Linked DNA regions of Homo sapiens: region 2 is linked to region 1. Evidence: fine-mapped expression QTL. Tissue or cell type: whole blood. Region 1 holds a variant in brackets; the other region holds the start of a gene. All regions are shown on one strand. Distances are between the middles of the regions.

Region 1 (8,109 bases):
TCTACAAAGACCCTAGATTTAAAAATAATCAGAGAAAAATGTTGTAAAACAACTCTTCTCATAACGTCCAAAGCTAGAACACACTTGAAACAATCTCAGCAAAAGAAAGCTGTCAAATATGCAGCCATAAAAAAGGATGAGTTCATGTCCTTTGTAGGGACATAGATGAAGCTGGAAACCATCATTCTCAGCAAACTATCGCAAGGACAGAAAACCAAACACGGCATGTTCTTACTCATAGGTGGGTACTGAACAATGAGAACACTTGGACACAGAAAGGGGAACATCACACACCACGAGCTGTCGTTGGGTAGGGGGAGGGGGGAGGGATACCATTAGGAGATATACCTAATGTAAATGACAAGTTAATGGGTGCAGCACGACAACATGGCACATGTATACATATGTAACAAATCTGCACGTTGTGCACATGTACCCTAGAACTTAAAGTATAATAATAATAATAATAACAATAATAATAAAAGAAAGCTGTTAAAAATGACCAGCATAGAATCTCTCTTCCCCACTGTCAGACAACATTTCAGTGGTCCCTGTAACTATTGCTCTGGTCCTGAATAAAATCTTTCTTGCCATGCTTGAAAAAAAAAAAAACAGAATTGCAAAATATGTCTCTGACAAAGGACTAATATCAAGAATCTACAAGGACCTCAAAGAATTCAAGAAGAGAAAAAGAAACAACCCCATTAAAAACTGGGCAAAGGACATGAACAGACATTTTTCAAAAAAAAAAAAAATGCAAGCAGCCAACAAACACATGAAAAAATGCTCAGAATCACTAATCATTAAAGAAATGCTCATTAAAACCACAATGAGATATCATCTTATATCAGTCAGAATGGCTGTTATTAAAAAGTTGAAAAAAGAAAAAAACAGAGGTTGACTTGGATGCAGAGCAAAGAGAGAACGCTTATACACTATTGGTGGGAATATAAATTAGTTCAAGCTCTATGGAAAACAGTATGAAGATATCTCAAAGAACTGAAAACAGAACTACCCTTTGACCCAGAAATATTCATAACTGGACACCTACCCAAAGGAAAACAAATCATTATAGGACAATACCATGACAATAGCAAAGTCACGGAACCAACCTAAGTCTAACCTATGGGTCCATCAATAATTGATTGGATAAAGAAAATGTGATATATATACACATCATGTAATACTACACCACCATAAAAAAGAATGAAATCATGTCCTTTGAAGCAACATGGATGGAGGTGTAGAACATTATTCTAAGTGAATTAACTCAGAAACAGAAAATAAAATACTGCATATTCTCACCTACAAGTGGAAGCTAAACAATTGGTACACATGGACATAAAGATGGAAATAATAGACACTGAGGTTTCCCAAAGGGGAGAGGATGTGAGTGTTGAAAAACTACCTATTAGGTACAATATTCATTATTTGGGTAATGGGTGAACTAGAAGCCCAATCCCCACCAGTATGCAATATACCCATTTAACAAACATTCACATGGACCCCTTGAATCTAAAATAAAATAAATATTTTTTAAATGACTGGAATGTGTGAAAAAGGAAACAAAGAACATTTCTAAAATAGAAAGATGCAAAAAATAAATTTTTAAATGCAATGGCTGTTCACTATTTTGTAGTAGCTAAAGTAGGTACTAGTGAATCCAAAGATCAGTCAGAAGAAATTATGCAGAATGCATCACAGCAAAACAGAGGCAGTGAGACATTTTACCATATTTTTACTTGGATTCCTAAACAAAGAGGAGAAAGAACATAGAACAGAGAAAACCTTTGTAAGTAATATTTTAAGATAATGACTGATACCCTACATCAAAAGAAAGCCAACGGGAAGTTCCTAAATCTATAGAGGGTACACAAACATAAAACTACACTTGAACATGTCATGGCGAGTTGGACGAACCAAAAACAATAGTAAAACCAAAGAACAACCACACACATGCATAAATCCACAAGGTAGTGAATAAAACAGCTTACTTTCAAGGCAGCAGAATGGCATTGACCACTAACTACTCAACAGAAATGATGAAAGACGGATGCCAGAAGAATCAGATCACCAAAGTGCTAATAAAAAATAATTGCCAATCTAGAATTTCTAGGACCCACTTTTTAAGAGTAGGATGAAATGCAGACATTCTTGGGCAAACAAAAAAAGAGAGTTTATCTGCAGCATATCCTCAGAAAAGGATGTAATTAAATCAGAGAAAAAGATGAGGATCAAGAAGGTAGGAAACATGCAAAAATCATGACAAGTAGTTTTTGCCATTAAGAAAAAGATGAAACTAATTAATTCCACAAAACAAGTCAAGAATAACTCATGAATTAGAGGGAGCAGAAATGGAGTTGCCATCTTCAAAGGCACTCATTTTCAGGAGATGTATACAATTTTTGGAAAAACTTGTATTTGAAAAGTTAAGTATGCATTTTGCAATTTTCAGAGAGTGAAAGAATAGCAACAAAATACTTATAAACTAGGAAAGGAAAAATCTTGAATAAGAAAATAATCTAACCAAAAAAGCCACATTTAAGTACTATGTTTATTTTGTTAAATTAATTTAAATTTTAAAAAATTATCTTCACTCTATGCAATAATATTTGTGAAATTTTGACTCTGGTGTGTAAATTAACTTGTTTACTGCATTGAATCCTTTGTCATTTTTGTAATACTTTGATTATCTCCATCTAAATATTCAAACATCACCTCTTAACATAACCAGTGGTACACTTTCCATGATTTAGATATGGTGGTCTGACTAGCGTTGAAACTTGAGAGAAGCTAGCCTCAATAACAGGACCCAGGGATAACCATCTAGTTCTCCAGCGAAGGGCCTTAAGCCCTCTGGGGGTCCACCTTGTTGGTTACTCACTAATCAAAGATGTGCCCGGCCCCTAGTTTTCTCCTCCCTGACTCAAGTTCATGTCATTCAACTCTCTGCCTGGTTCACGGACTCATGGTATTCTGCCCTACTCCTGCTGCTTGGCTATCCACCAGTTACCAAAAGCTGAAGTTGATGCAACCACGTGAAATTTCTACAAGACCCTCCCCTCTTTGGGCTCCCATCACATTGTCACTACTGCCAGATGTCATCAGCGTGAGAGAATCAGTGGTGGTCCACAGGAGCATCTTGTTGTCCCTCCCTAAATGATACCAGCACCACTTTCCTCCCAAAATCAATGCTCCCAACCACAATACCCCCCTTGACTTCACTTGTGTTCCCAGCAAGCCATCAAAACTAGCACCAAGGCTCTCTCTAGGAGGCTATAAATATGTATGTTTTCCTTTTTTCTGTCTTTAAATGGTGAGTTAACACAAACAGACCTACATACACCAGACCCCAAGGTATCAATCTGGATCCCTTCACAGGATCCTTTTCCATTCACAGAACCAAGAAAAAAAAGCAAACTCTGAAGCCCAGCCCTTCCCTCCTCTATTCCGGAGCAGGCAGCTGATGGGACGCAAATGGGGCTGCTGAGCTTCAGGGTGGAAATGGAAGCCAGTGCCTTGTGCTCCTTGTGATGTGAAACGTGTTGCAGCTGCGCAGAGAAACAAGAGTTTTCACTGGACACAGTGCAAGGAGCAAGCAGGATGCCTTTCATGGACAGAAGCTGCATCTGTCTATACTTCAGCCATTCAATCAACAAACATTTCATGATCATCAGTTACTGCTATGAAAGGTAGATGCTGAGGGTAAAACAAGGAACAAGATGAGAATGCCCCACTCCCATATGGCACATGTAAAAGCATAAAAGTCTATCTGAATCATTTTTGAAACAGAAGGCCCATGACATTTCCTGCTGAGTCCACGTTGGCTCTTGTTTGTGGATACCAGCACATATTAAAATTATCTGAAATATTCAGTTGTGAGCCCCCTCCCCTGATATGGTTAGGCTTCGCGTCCCCACCCAGATCTCATCTTGAATTGTAATCCCCATAATCCCCATAATCCCTATTTGTCAAAGGAGAGACCAGGTGGAGGTAATTGAATCATGGGGATGGTTTCCCCCATGCTGTTCTCATGATAGTGAGTGAGTTCTCCCAAGATCGGATGGTTTTATAAGGGGCTTCTTCCCCTTTGCTTAGCACTTCTCCTTTCTGCCACCTTGTGTAGAAGGTGCCTTGCTTCCCCTTCACCTTCCACCATGATTGTAAGTTTCCTGAGGCCTCCCCAGCCATGCTGAACTGTGAGTCAATTAAATCTCTTTCTTTTATAAATTACCCAGTCTCAGGCAGTTCTTTATTACAGTATGAAAATGGACTAATACAGTGAGAAAAAAATAGCTCTGGAGGGCTGGGTTACATTCAGGACATGTACTAAATATTTTAATGCATTTTTTTAGCAAGCACGTAAAATGTCTCCCCCAAGGCTTTAAGCTCTCTTTCTACTTCCCTAAAGGTTTCCCCATCAAAATAGGAAATAAATATTGAAGCTAGAAAAGGCTTGTCCCCTTCAAAGTAAGTAAGGGCACGCTTCATGACAGGCATAACTTTCTTCAGACAGTGGGGGAGGACACTTAATTCCTT[C/A]ACCAAAGAAAAAAAAAGTTACAAAACAGCAACCTATGGAAACAAAAACATGGAATCAATGCATCGCCTGAAATAACTTCTCTGTAGTCCTGAGGGTGGTGTTTTGTTTGGCTTGTTCTCCTTCCCACCTTTTTATACCCCACAAGGATCCTTCTCATTCTGTTGTAGCCAGGGCTCCTAGAGAAGGCTGTCAACATTGAAGGGCCCAGATCCCTTCTACCAGTTTTTCTTGTGCTTCCTATGTGCTTGTAACTGTGAATCTCCTGCTTTTCAAACAACTCTTCTGCCTTTTGTATGGGTATACATTAAAGGGGAAAATCAGGGCCTCTTCACACTACTCTGGCAAAATCAACCTGAACTGCTGGATTATAGGTCTTGGCATCTGGAGCTGCCTGCTTGAGCCCTGGCAGGTCTGGAGGCTTGGGGCTCTTTCATTGACTCAGGAAATATTTCTGCTTCCCACCCAGGACTTCTGTTGTCTCTTCCTCCCTTCTCCTCCCCTGCTCTCAGGACTCTTAGATGTAGCCCAGGTTTGCTTCCACACAGTTGACATTGGCGGTGCATGGTCTTCTCCCCTCTACGCCCTCAGATCTCCATGCCTGTGCCTATGACACGTGCCACCTGCACCTGTGTAGCCAAGCCTGGCTCCTCATCCGTGGCCACTCCTGCCCCCACAACCTGCCAGTCCTGCCTCCTTTTTGCCTGCCTCCTGCCTATCTTTACTTCACTGATTTATTTGGCTGGAAAATATTTCTACAACTTCCCCTCCCACACTCACCTGGGGCTATGACATTGTTGTGCACACTGGTTGGGCCTCGCCCCTGCCACCTAACAAGTACATCCTACAGGCCCAGGAGGGCATTATCTGTGGTTTTGAATTTCTAGTGTCTCGAACTGTACTGGCCCAGAGAGGACCTCAAATATGGAAAACTGAAGTGATTGCTTTCTGCACGCGTTACCTATGCACCCATGCATAACTCACACAAACTTACTGAATCTTCATTTACTCTTCTGTAAAAGGGGAGTAATCAAAGAAATGCACTTTACTAACAACAAGAGGATGGCATAGTTTATCTTTTAAACTGATAAAGATGTTCTGAAATAAGAATCTATGTTTTCAAGGGTACAGGACTTTGGTAGTTACACCATGACAGTAAAGATGCATATTTTAGGAACTTGGTGGGGGATAATTTGACAATACACATCTACATGTTTACATTGTACATACCCTTTGACTGACACTCCACTGTTAGAAATTTGTACTAAGGAAATAATCAGACCTACAACATAAGCACTTAGCTATAGGAATACTGGTCAAAGAGTTGTTGATCATACTCAAAAATTAGAAACAATCTAAATATGCAATAAGAAATATTTAGGCCGGGCGCGGTGGCTCACGCCTGTAATCCCAGCACTTTGGGAGGCCGAGGCGGGCGGATCACGAGGTCAGGAGATCGAGACCATCCCGGCTAAAACGGTGAAACCCCGTCTCTACTAAAAATACAAAAAATTAGCCGGGCGTAGTGGCGGGCGCCTGTAGTCCCAGCTACTTGGGAGGCTGAGGCAGGAGAATGGCGTGAACCCAGGAGGCGGAGCTTGCAGTGAGCCGAGATCCCGCCACTGCACTCCAGCCTGGGCGACAGCGAGACTCCGTCTCAAAAAAAAAAAAAAAAAAAAAAAAACAACAAAAAAAGAAATATTTAAAATAAATTATATTGCATTCATCTGATGTAATATTATACAGACATTTAGAAAGCTCTTATAGTCAAAGGATAAGTAGGTTACCTTTGGCATATTAAATGAGTAAAACTGATACTAAGTTGATATACCCATTGTGATATAATTTTCTTTGGTTCTTAAATATTTTTATATACCTAAGGAAAAAGATTAAAAGCTTATGAAACCAAAATATTCACAGTTTAGTTATCACAGTCTAGTGTGATTATGGGTAATTTTTATTGTTTTAATTTCATATTTTTCTGTTCAAAGTTCCATTGCTTGTTTAATTAAAAAAAACTTTTAAATAATATTATAAAATGACCATCACAGAAAAAAATATCATTAGGCAATATTGCCATGACTATAGACCTTTCTCCCTACACTGTTATTCTTACAGTTGGATGCTTTGAATCGGGAAGTGATATATCGCCTTGCTTTTCGCTGGAGAAGGAAGCGCCAGCCTTTGTGAGCATGTGTATCACAAGCTAACTAGCACGAAGATTGCATAGCTCTTTCTACATAAGGCTACTGTTCGCAGAAATTTGGTCCATGGTCTCCAGTCTCTTGGGGTCTCACGCTCTGTGAAAATCTTCGTGTTTTTCCCTAGCCCCCAGAGTCACCTTTCACACAGCGTCTGCTTGTAACCGCGGTCCCCACAGGAGTTTGTAGGATTTCTGTGCCAGCGGTGAAGGTGTTCTCACCTCATAGAGCAAGGTAGAAACTACGCAGACAGGCGCTGTTCTTTGGGATGAAAGCAGGGCCTTTGGGGCTCTTTCTTAGTGTCCCCGTTCGGTTGTAGACATAACACGCTTGCTTTGTGTAGGAGATCGGCTCTGCCGGCGCCCAGGGGCCCTAACGCAGTTCATCGAGGCCCGCAGGTCAGAACTGCAGTCTCACCTGTCTTGGCGGAAATGCGCTGCGCTCCTCCCTGTACTACATAAGCACGAGAATTCCACTACAGAAGAAAACCCCAGGCCTAGTGATGGCGGTTCTGGGCATTTTGCCAGCTTCTCCCAGGGTGTGCTTTCTGACCCCACCCACTTCTGATCTGTAATGTCATGGTCAATAGAAACTACTGGGCCCAAACGGAAAAGGCAAGGAGGAACACAGCGGGAAAGCCTATGGCGTTCCCTGGTGGCTACCCCGGGGACTGCACTCATAGATCCGCGTGTTCCGAGAAGCCTCTGCCATCCCGACCCCGGAGCCGTGCAGAAACCCGCGGCTCCAAAGAAAACCGGCTAGAACGCACAGGAAGCCCAGCCAGTGTTCAGGACACTGCGAGTGGAAGCCGTACGTCCCACGGACTGATCTAGTTTGCTGAAGACGAGCCATTTACTTCTAACCCCAGCAGCGGACATTGCCTTGCTCAAATATAAAATATATGAACCAAGACCGAAAGCAACTCTTATTGCGTTACTGATGAGCAAACGGGTTTTTAGAATGGTTAAGAAATGTCCCTTGTTTTGGGACCGTCATCACTAACGTATGCTTGGGATTCCTGATCGAGGAGTTTCTGAGCAAAGCAGCCCACCAATCCAGTGGCTGAGAACGGCTTGGATATTGGCTTCCAGGCGCATCAGAAATACCGAGGTTCTGACAAAGACGTGAGCTTCTGTCTGCCTTTGGGAAGGCCTTCTTCCAGTCCTGGCGCTGCCGCTTGCCTTCTGTTTGACCTGGGGCCAGGTCCTTCAATTTGCTAGGCTTCAAGTTGGAAAGTGTTACAGGAAAATAATAATGCGAAGTGCTTCTTAGAGTTATTGCACAGATTACAGAAGATAGTCTAATAGTACAGCTAGCATCCTGTATGGCTTACATTAAGGATTTGCTGATAGGAAACAACATCCCAGATAA
Region 2 (8,109 bases), 210 kb before region 1:
TAGGGAGTCCACATTTGAGAAGAAAAGCTCATCTCTCTTCCTGCCCTAAGTCTAAATTTTCAGTTAAACACAGAGGAAACACCCTGTATAAAATACTCTGTCTACATTATTTTGTAAATTTTACTCTCTATTGTATTATCTGAATAACTGTCCATCTTCGGTAATATGGCAGCTTGTACAGGCACCTAGTAAATACCTAAAATATGATATCTATTATCAGTGTAAATACTGAAAGTACACTGATAAGAAAACAAAAACATACAAAAATGAAAATACATTGAATTATCTGGCCTGGACAATTAAGGTGATTAAATATAAAACTGTTTGGTTGAGATATCTGTTTATTAAAAAGTTATTCCTGGACTCCTAAGAGGTAAGACATCATTAAAAGGCCTTAGAACAAGGCAGTAAAGTACAGTGGTTAGGCACTAAAGTACAGTGGTTATTAAGTTTTTGTCTGAGTCGACAAAAACTTAATAAAAACCACTGGGTCTCAATTGGGGTGATTTTGCCCCCATGAGACATTTAGCAATGTCTAGAAATATTTTTGTCGTCATACAAACAAACAAAGTGGGGAAGGGTAGTGGTACTACTGGCATCTAGAGGGTAGAGGCCAGGAATATTGCTGGACCTCCTACACAATATACAGAACAGTCCCCAAGAACAAATAATTATCCATCCCCAAATGTCAACAGTGCCAAGGGGAAAAACCCTGATGAAAAATTTCATTATGCCACTCATTAGCTGTGAATTTAGGCAAGTGATCTATCCTCTCTAAGCCTCAGAGCTTCCTTATCTATTATTGGAGATTTTAATAGTACCTGTTCTAATATGGTAGTATGAGGATTAAATAAAAAAATGAACTTAATAGGCTTAGCACAGTGTTTGGTATGTAGTAGGCGCTTTTATAAATGTTCTGTATACTATTAAAATAGTAAAAGTAAGCCTAAGATTCAGATCTTTACAGACATTAAAAGTTTAGGCAAACTTTATTATTCAAAGTCAAAATTCCTAAAGGAAAATACTATGGCACTACAATCACAAAAATATTTGTGTGTAAAATTTCTTTCCTTGTCAATTAAACAAAGCATCCCATCTTGATAAACCAATATGAAACCAATACCAAATTTATAATTAAAAAACAATAAATCAATTAATTTTTCAATAAAGTATCATGGCAGAGAGTAGGGGCCACTAATATTAAGTAGACTTTCAAGTTCACTTTGTATTCTTTGCTAACACTGGAATTCAATGCAATAATTTAAAAATTGACCAGATTCCATCCCCCCTACCCCCAACACACAGCCACCCACTGTAGGAAAACTATTTTTTAGTCAAACTACACATCCTTCAAGGATATTCCCCTGCACTATCTACTTTGTTCAAATCATATTCCTAGGTTCATTTGAACAATTACACTCCTTCTGCAGGATGGTCCTAGAGTATTCCTGAAAAACATTTCACATTAGCAAATCGGGGTATGTTAAATTGTTCACGGTTTATTTCAAAGATTAGACTTTGTTTTTATGTAATGAATAGAATATATTTCACTTAGCATGACCTGCAACTTTATTATCTGTATCACCACTCTCCTAAAAGTGAAAGTAACTATATTTCCAAATCAAACCTAAAAAGGCATATAACCAAATAGAATAATAGTTCCTTACTACTGGATCCTACTGTTACCTTAGTGTCATACCTTCTGGGAAGACTTTCCTGATTTCCTAAAACCAACTTAGATATATTTTCCATGTTCAAGCACAAAACCCTCTTCCTTCTCCTTAGCAGTTAAACTACATTTTAATAGTTTGTTGGTTATCTGATTTTTCCACTAGACTGTAAGCTCCACAAAGGTAGAGACTGTGTACTCTAACTCCCTGCATTAACACTATGCCTGGCACATTTGATGTGCTCAGTAAAAATTTTTTGCATTAATATATGAATGAAAAGTCCAACAGAAGAAATGTGCAAACTATTTTTTCAATATCTCATCTTTTTTTAAGGCTCAAGGTTTTACTTAGACTGTATGGAAAAGTAAAATAAAATTGATCACTTTAAACAAATTATATAAATTCCATTCTCAGCTTTGTCTTCAGAACCTCCCAAGCTTGCTCCAGAAACTTGTCTTACTTCAGAAATTTCCACTGTGTTTCTAAAACACAAAACATCTTTCTTTTAAGACATCTGGAGTTAGTGCTGTTTTTAATCAATTCAGTATACTTTTGAGCACCTACTAGCATAAAGCAGCTATTGTAAAAGGTATGGATAACAAAGAGATGATTAAGACCCGTCGTTTGCCCGCTAGGAAACTCAAGTTATTGAAAGACAAAGAAAAAAATAAGTTACAATGTATTGCAGGAATGTGGTACGGCGTATTGGAGAAGGTGGGAACTGGGGATAATCCTGAAAGAATGTGATGTACTGAAATTTAACAGGTGCTTTTATGTGGCAATATTACCTCACCCACTTTCAAAAGATGTCAGCAAGCTAGGTCAAGGATCAGGTGCCACGTTATAGACTTGAAGAACTTGGCTGATTTTTTCCCAGGATTTATCCATCAGCAGTCCTATTAGCAGCAGAAAATTAGAAATCCTGAATTTTAACAAAGTCCCTAAAGAGTCAAAGAACACTGGGTGATCACAATCAACCAAAGCTACCACTTCTCCAGAGCGTTTTTCTAAAGAGAAACAGCTAACACAAAAAACTTAACTCCTCCTTCAGGAAAGATTTCCTCTTCGCCGGTAGTCTCTCCTACACCAAAAGATAAAAGCGCACTTCAGAGAGGTCGGGAGTGCCCGGGAAGTCACAAAGGTCTCCCGGTCCTAGGAAGGAATCCGATGCTGAGGGCAAAGCGCGCTGACAGAGACTTGGGGTCGCGGGTCGTGAGTAAGCAGCTCACCTGTTCGTCCTCCTGCATCGAGGCGGCCAGCGGGAGCCCGTCCGCCACTCGGGCGATCATTGTTAGCAACACCATCTTCACAAACTACAGGGATCCAACACTGGCCCGGAAGGCCCTTGGCGCCGTCCTCACTTCCTCCGCCGCGACAACAGTTATACCCTATGTCTCAGTTACCGGAGATCCAGCTGCTTGCGTCTCCGCTTCCCGCTGAGGTGGCCGGAAACAGCGCAAGAGCTTTCCACTACCGGTCCCCAGAATTGGCTTCCCTCAGAGAACCACAACTATCAGAACACTGGTTCCGCGATCTGCCTTCCACCTTCTTAACTTCCAAGGTCTGGCTGGGTTTTCTGAATTTGAGGCTTCGAATAAGCCTCGCCCTTTGAGCGGCCATTGCACCCAAGCTGAATCAGAATTTTCTAGTTCCTGAAACTAAGTCTTGGGAGAGAGCTGGGAAGGAGGGTGGGAGTTAATGGGTAATCCCCATTAACCACTAACCGTTAACCATGAAGGGTATGTAAAAAAAGGAAAACCCTGAAAATTAGGCTATTTTCATATTTATTTTTTTCTGTTTTCTATGTCATATATTCTATAAAATGTTCTATATTTATATATTTCTAGACAAAGATTTTTGTCTATTTTTGCTTGTTTGTTTATGCGGTATCCCCACCAGGCTCCTTAAACAGTTTATGGTAAGAAGTCAATAAATATGTGTTGTATGTGTGAATAAATGAACAAGTACAGGACATCTTGTACCACCTAGGTCAGTCACCTACAAAAAGCTAGGATCAGGCCGGGCGCGGTGGCTCACGCCTGTAATCCAAGCACTATGGGAGGCCGAGGCGGGCGGATCACGAGGTCAGGAGATCGAGACCATCCTGGCTAACATGGTGAAACCCCGTCTCTACTAAAAAAACACAAAAAAATTAGCCGGGCGCGGTGGCGGACGCCTGTGGTCCCAGCTACTCACTCGGGAGGCTGAGGCAGAATGGCGTGAACCCGGGAGGCGGAGCTTGCAGTGAACCGAGGTTGCGTCACTGTACTCCAGCTTGGGCAACAGAGCGACACTCTGTCTCAAAAAAAAAAAATAAATAAATAAATAAATAAAATAAAAACTAGGATCTCTGATATATCTAGGTGTTCCCATCTCTTTGTTTTTTGGTGTCCCCATCTCTAAAGTGGGGATATGATCGGCCTTTCAGGGTTTTAATGAATATTAGATGAGAAAATCTAGGTGCAAGGCTTTCAAAAGCTAAAAAAAGAATTATACAAATGCTTTTATTTATCATTGCTTAATAATGACTACTCTTTACTAAGTGCTTACAGTTAGTTCTCGCATTAATAGAAACACTGTTAAGTATGTTCTAGATATTAGTTAAGCAACCCAGTAAGCTTGTTTAGTATTATATCTCCACTTTGTAGTTGAGAGGAAAGCCTCAGAGAGCTAGCAGTGATGGGAACAGGATTTGAGCTCAGGTTCAACTTCAAATCCTGATGTGATTCTGTCTTAACTTGTACCCATTAATTAAAGAGCTCAGGCTTTTGTTACCTTTTATATTGGCCTTCAGGATTAGAAGAAAACCAATATTATTTTTGTGTGGCATTTTCTTTATTAAAAAGATTCTTATTTCAATAGCTTTTGGGTTACAAGTGGGTTTTTGTTACATAGATGAATTATATAGTGGTGAAAGCTGAGATTTTAGTGCACCCATCACCTGAGTTGCGTACATTTTACTTAATAAGTAGTTTTTTAACCCTAGGTCCCTTCCCACCCTCCGCCTTCTAAGTCTCTAAAGTCCATTATATCACTCTGTATACCTTTGTGTACTCATAGCTTAGCTCACACTTAAGTGAGAACATACGGTTTTTGGTTTTCCACTCCTGAGTTACTTCACTTAGAATAATGGCCTCCAGCTCCATCCAAGTTACTGCAAAAGACATTATTTCACTCCTTTTTATGGCTGGGTAGTATTCCATGGTGTGTGTGTGTGTGTGTGTGTGTGTGTGTATCACATTTTCTTTATCCACTCATTAGTTGACAGGCACTTAGGTTGGTTCCACATCTTTGCAATTGTGAATTATGCTGCTAAGAAAAGTAATATTATTTAATGATAGACTTTTGAGACCAAAACCCAATAAGACCTAGTGATTGACTCCACATGAAAGATGAAGGACTACAATAAATAAGACAAAAAAAATTGTGCTATTAACAGAGACAGAAAGTGGAATGGAAGTGAATCCTTGTGTATATGGGAGTCTAAGTTGGTAGAATCATAGTACCTTACATTTAAAATAGCCCATAGATATAAGTTGTTCTAATTTCCCTTCCTTCCACTCAACAAGGACATGCCTTCTCCACAGCCTCAAATGATGGTCATTTGAGTAATGGGGAATTAATGCTACAAATATTTTAACTAAGGATACAGACTGCCATGTTGATTAGAGAAGCAGAGAGAGAAGAATGCAGGTGTGTGCCGAGAAGCAAATTCGGAGCAAGAATCCACATCTTTTTTCAGTTCCTGACTCTAGGCTCCTCCCAAGGCCCATACACATTCCTGCCATTGGGTTCTATCAAACACTATTGCTTCTTTATAACAAATTCCCTCTTTATCCTGCTTAGGCTACTTTGAGTTAGTTTGTTACTTAAAAACCAAAACACACACACACACACACACACACACACACACGCAAACTAATAAAAGCATGGAGTCACCCTGGAGCAATTATTTCTTGGAACAACAACATTCATACTCACACCTCTTACTTTTATCCTTTGTAAACACACTAGATGACTCTGGCACCCTTCGAACACATTGATTCCAGGAAAAGGATAGTGATCTTAGGCTGCTAATAATTTCAGCCATCAGGAGAAAACTAGAGTTGTCTTGAAACTGCCCACTATTCAGACCTTGGGAGCTCTGGCATCTGAATTCCTTTTCCTTCTGACTTGATCAGCTTCATCTCATTCACATCCAAGTGTTGTCTTTGAGCTGCTGCCCTTTGATTCTTGGAGCAATACAGTACTGTGTAATAATGGTTAACACTGTGATCAGTAAGTACATGGAAGGTTCTCAACTATTTTACATTTAATTAAACAAGAGTATCAACAAACATTTGTACCGAACTTTAAAATTTATAAAGCCCACATATGTCCTTTGCCCTAAATCTGACAACCACCTCTGAAATGGATAAAATTCTTGGAGTTTGTAAATGTTGTACTAGGAAAAAAAAAAAAAGTAAACATAAGCCTTGAACGTCATAGTTACAGCTGCCAGCAAATTCTTGAAACTTATCAAAGAAATCGTGAAATGCACATATCTAAACCAACTTATATTAAGCTGCCTAAACAGGATAAGACTTTCCATTACAGCAGTCACACAGTTGCAGAAATTTTACAAGTGAGATCAAACGAAGCAATAGTTAAAGGTTTGTGTCCATTCATTCTTAAACAATTCTATCGAGTGCCTAATTCTATACCAGACACTAAGCTAAGTAATGAGGACGAATAAAGAATAGTCCCAGCAACTTGTGGCCCGTATCTACCCCCAGACCAAACACTGTCACTTAGGAGGTCTGCAAGTAAACTGCAGCTCCTGTTTGAATTACATGATTATATACATGGAAAAAACATTTCTTCTGAGAAACTGTGCTCCTGGAAGGCAAAAGAACAGATAGCCACTGTATCTGGACCAATATCTATCGATCTGGACTGTATGCATCAGTATGGCTGTACCAGCTATTAAAATACTGGAACATTTTCTTACAGATTAGTAAAAAAGCTATTGCCCTGAGCATCCCCTTCTTGAGCCCCTGCTACCCCAACAACATGCAAACGCTTAAGATTCCTGCTCCCCACAGTTCTGCCAGATTCCATTGTCTTTGGCGGTTTTCCAAGTTAGTCATTTTGAAAAGCTTCGCCTCCAGGCATGGCCATTAGCTACCCCCAGGGAATTAGAACGACCCCCGCCTTCCGCCCTGGCGCCTGCCCTCCGGCCACGCCTCCGGTGGGCTGCAGGGCGCAGGCCCTGGCGGGGGTTGGGAAGCAGCGCCCCAGGCAGGTTTACTGACACCATCTGCACTGGTGATTAAACACGAGTTATTTTGAATTACCATCCCTGATTAAACCTCCTCACAGTGCGAGCTGCGTGAAGGCAGGACTTTTCTTTATTCTTGAATTTTCACAGCCCTTAGCTGTGTCCTCCGCACAGTGCATCCAGTCAGAGAAGTGAAAGTGAAGGGTTAGAGGGGAAGGGGGAATGAGCCGGAAAGAACAAGGTGCGCTTTGGAAGTCCCGTGAAAGCCTCTGTTTAAAATAATTACGACTTTGGCCGGGCGCAGTGGCTCACGCCTGTAATCCCTGCACTCCGGAAGGCCGAGGCGGGTGGATCACTTGAGGTCAGGAGTTCGAGACCAGCCTGGCCAAAATGACAAAACCCCGTCTCTACTAAAAATACAAAAATTAACCAGGTGTGGTGGTGGGCGCCTGTAATCCTAGACACTAGGGAGGCTGAGGCAGTAGAATTGCTAGAACCCAGGGGGCGGAGGTTGCTGTGAGACGAGATTGCGCGCCACTGCACCCTAACCTGGGTGACAGAGCAAGACTCCGTCTCAAAAAAAAAAAAAAAAATTATGACTTTAAATAGCCTATTTCAAATATCAAGCCACAGCAAAGCTATCTCTTGCCTTCTAGAAGAAGCTATTTCATGAAACCGTAATACTTCTTCCAACATGTCTGTCTGGTTTCCCTACTTTGTCAGGAAAGCCTAGCAGAGAGCAGGCCCAGCTGGTTCACGCCTTGGAGCTTGGGATGTGTGCGGTGAGTAGGATAATTGGGTGTAGAAAGTAAAAAGTTTCCTCTTCAGAGTTTCCCTTCTTGTTAAAGAATAAATCATAAGTGTTAGAAATAATAGTTTCTTTTAAAGACTAACTTCCTTCAATCCTCCTTGCTTTGTGCTATTAACTCTCTGTTAAGCCCTATCCTATGTAGCTATTAGACATAAAGGAATAAGTACATTCTATGTCCTTGTACTTTAACCAAAATATTTGTGCTGGAGGTGCTGACGGGCATGTCTCAGCTCACAGCCTATGCCCCTTCCTTATTCAGGAATATTATTACTTTTCTAAGTCCTTTCATAAGCAACTTCCTCTTTTCCTTTGTCTTTCCATTGCTTTTACCTATTTAGAAAAGTTTTAAATTATTAGCCAGTCAGGTT

Evidence for each region. PIP is the estimated chance that this variant, and not a neighbour inherited with it, causes the effect.
Region 2: it holds the start of SEC22B, and the variant in region 1 is fine-mapped to the expression of SEC22B in whole blood (TOPMed, PIP above 0.99).

What each region holds. Positions count from the first base shown.
Region 1 is chr1:120,381,631-120,389,739 of GRCh38, forward strand. No RefSeq gene overlaps it. Among named protein-coding and RNA genes, the nearest start is that of NBPF8, 29 kb to the right of the region's middle. The variant C/A (reference allele first, on the strand shown) is at 4,540.
Region 2 is chr1:120,173,408-120,181,516 of GRCh38, forward strand. SEC22B (SEC22 homolog B, vesicle trafficking protein) reads right to left here and starts at 3,113. Exons shown (of 5, transcript NM_004892.6): 1 at 2,900-3,113. The coding sequence starts at 2,974. RefSeq lists enhancers at 2,235-2,800, 2,735-3,104, 2,801-3,366, 3,145-3,274.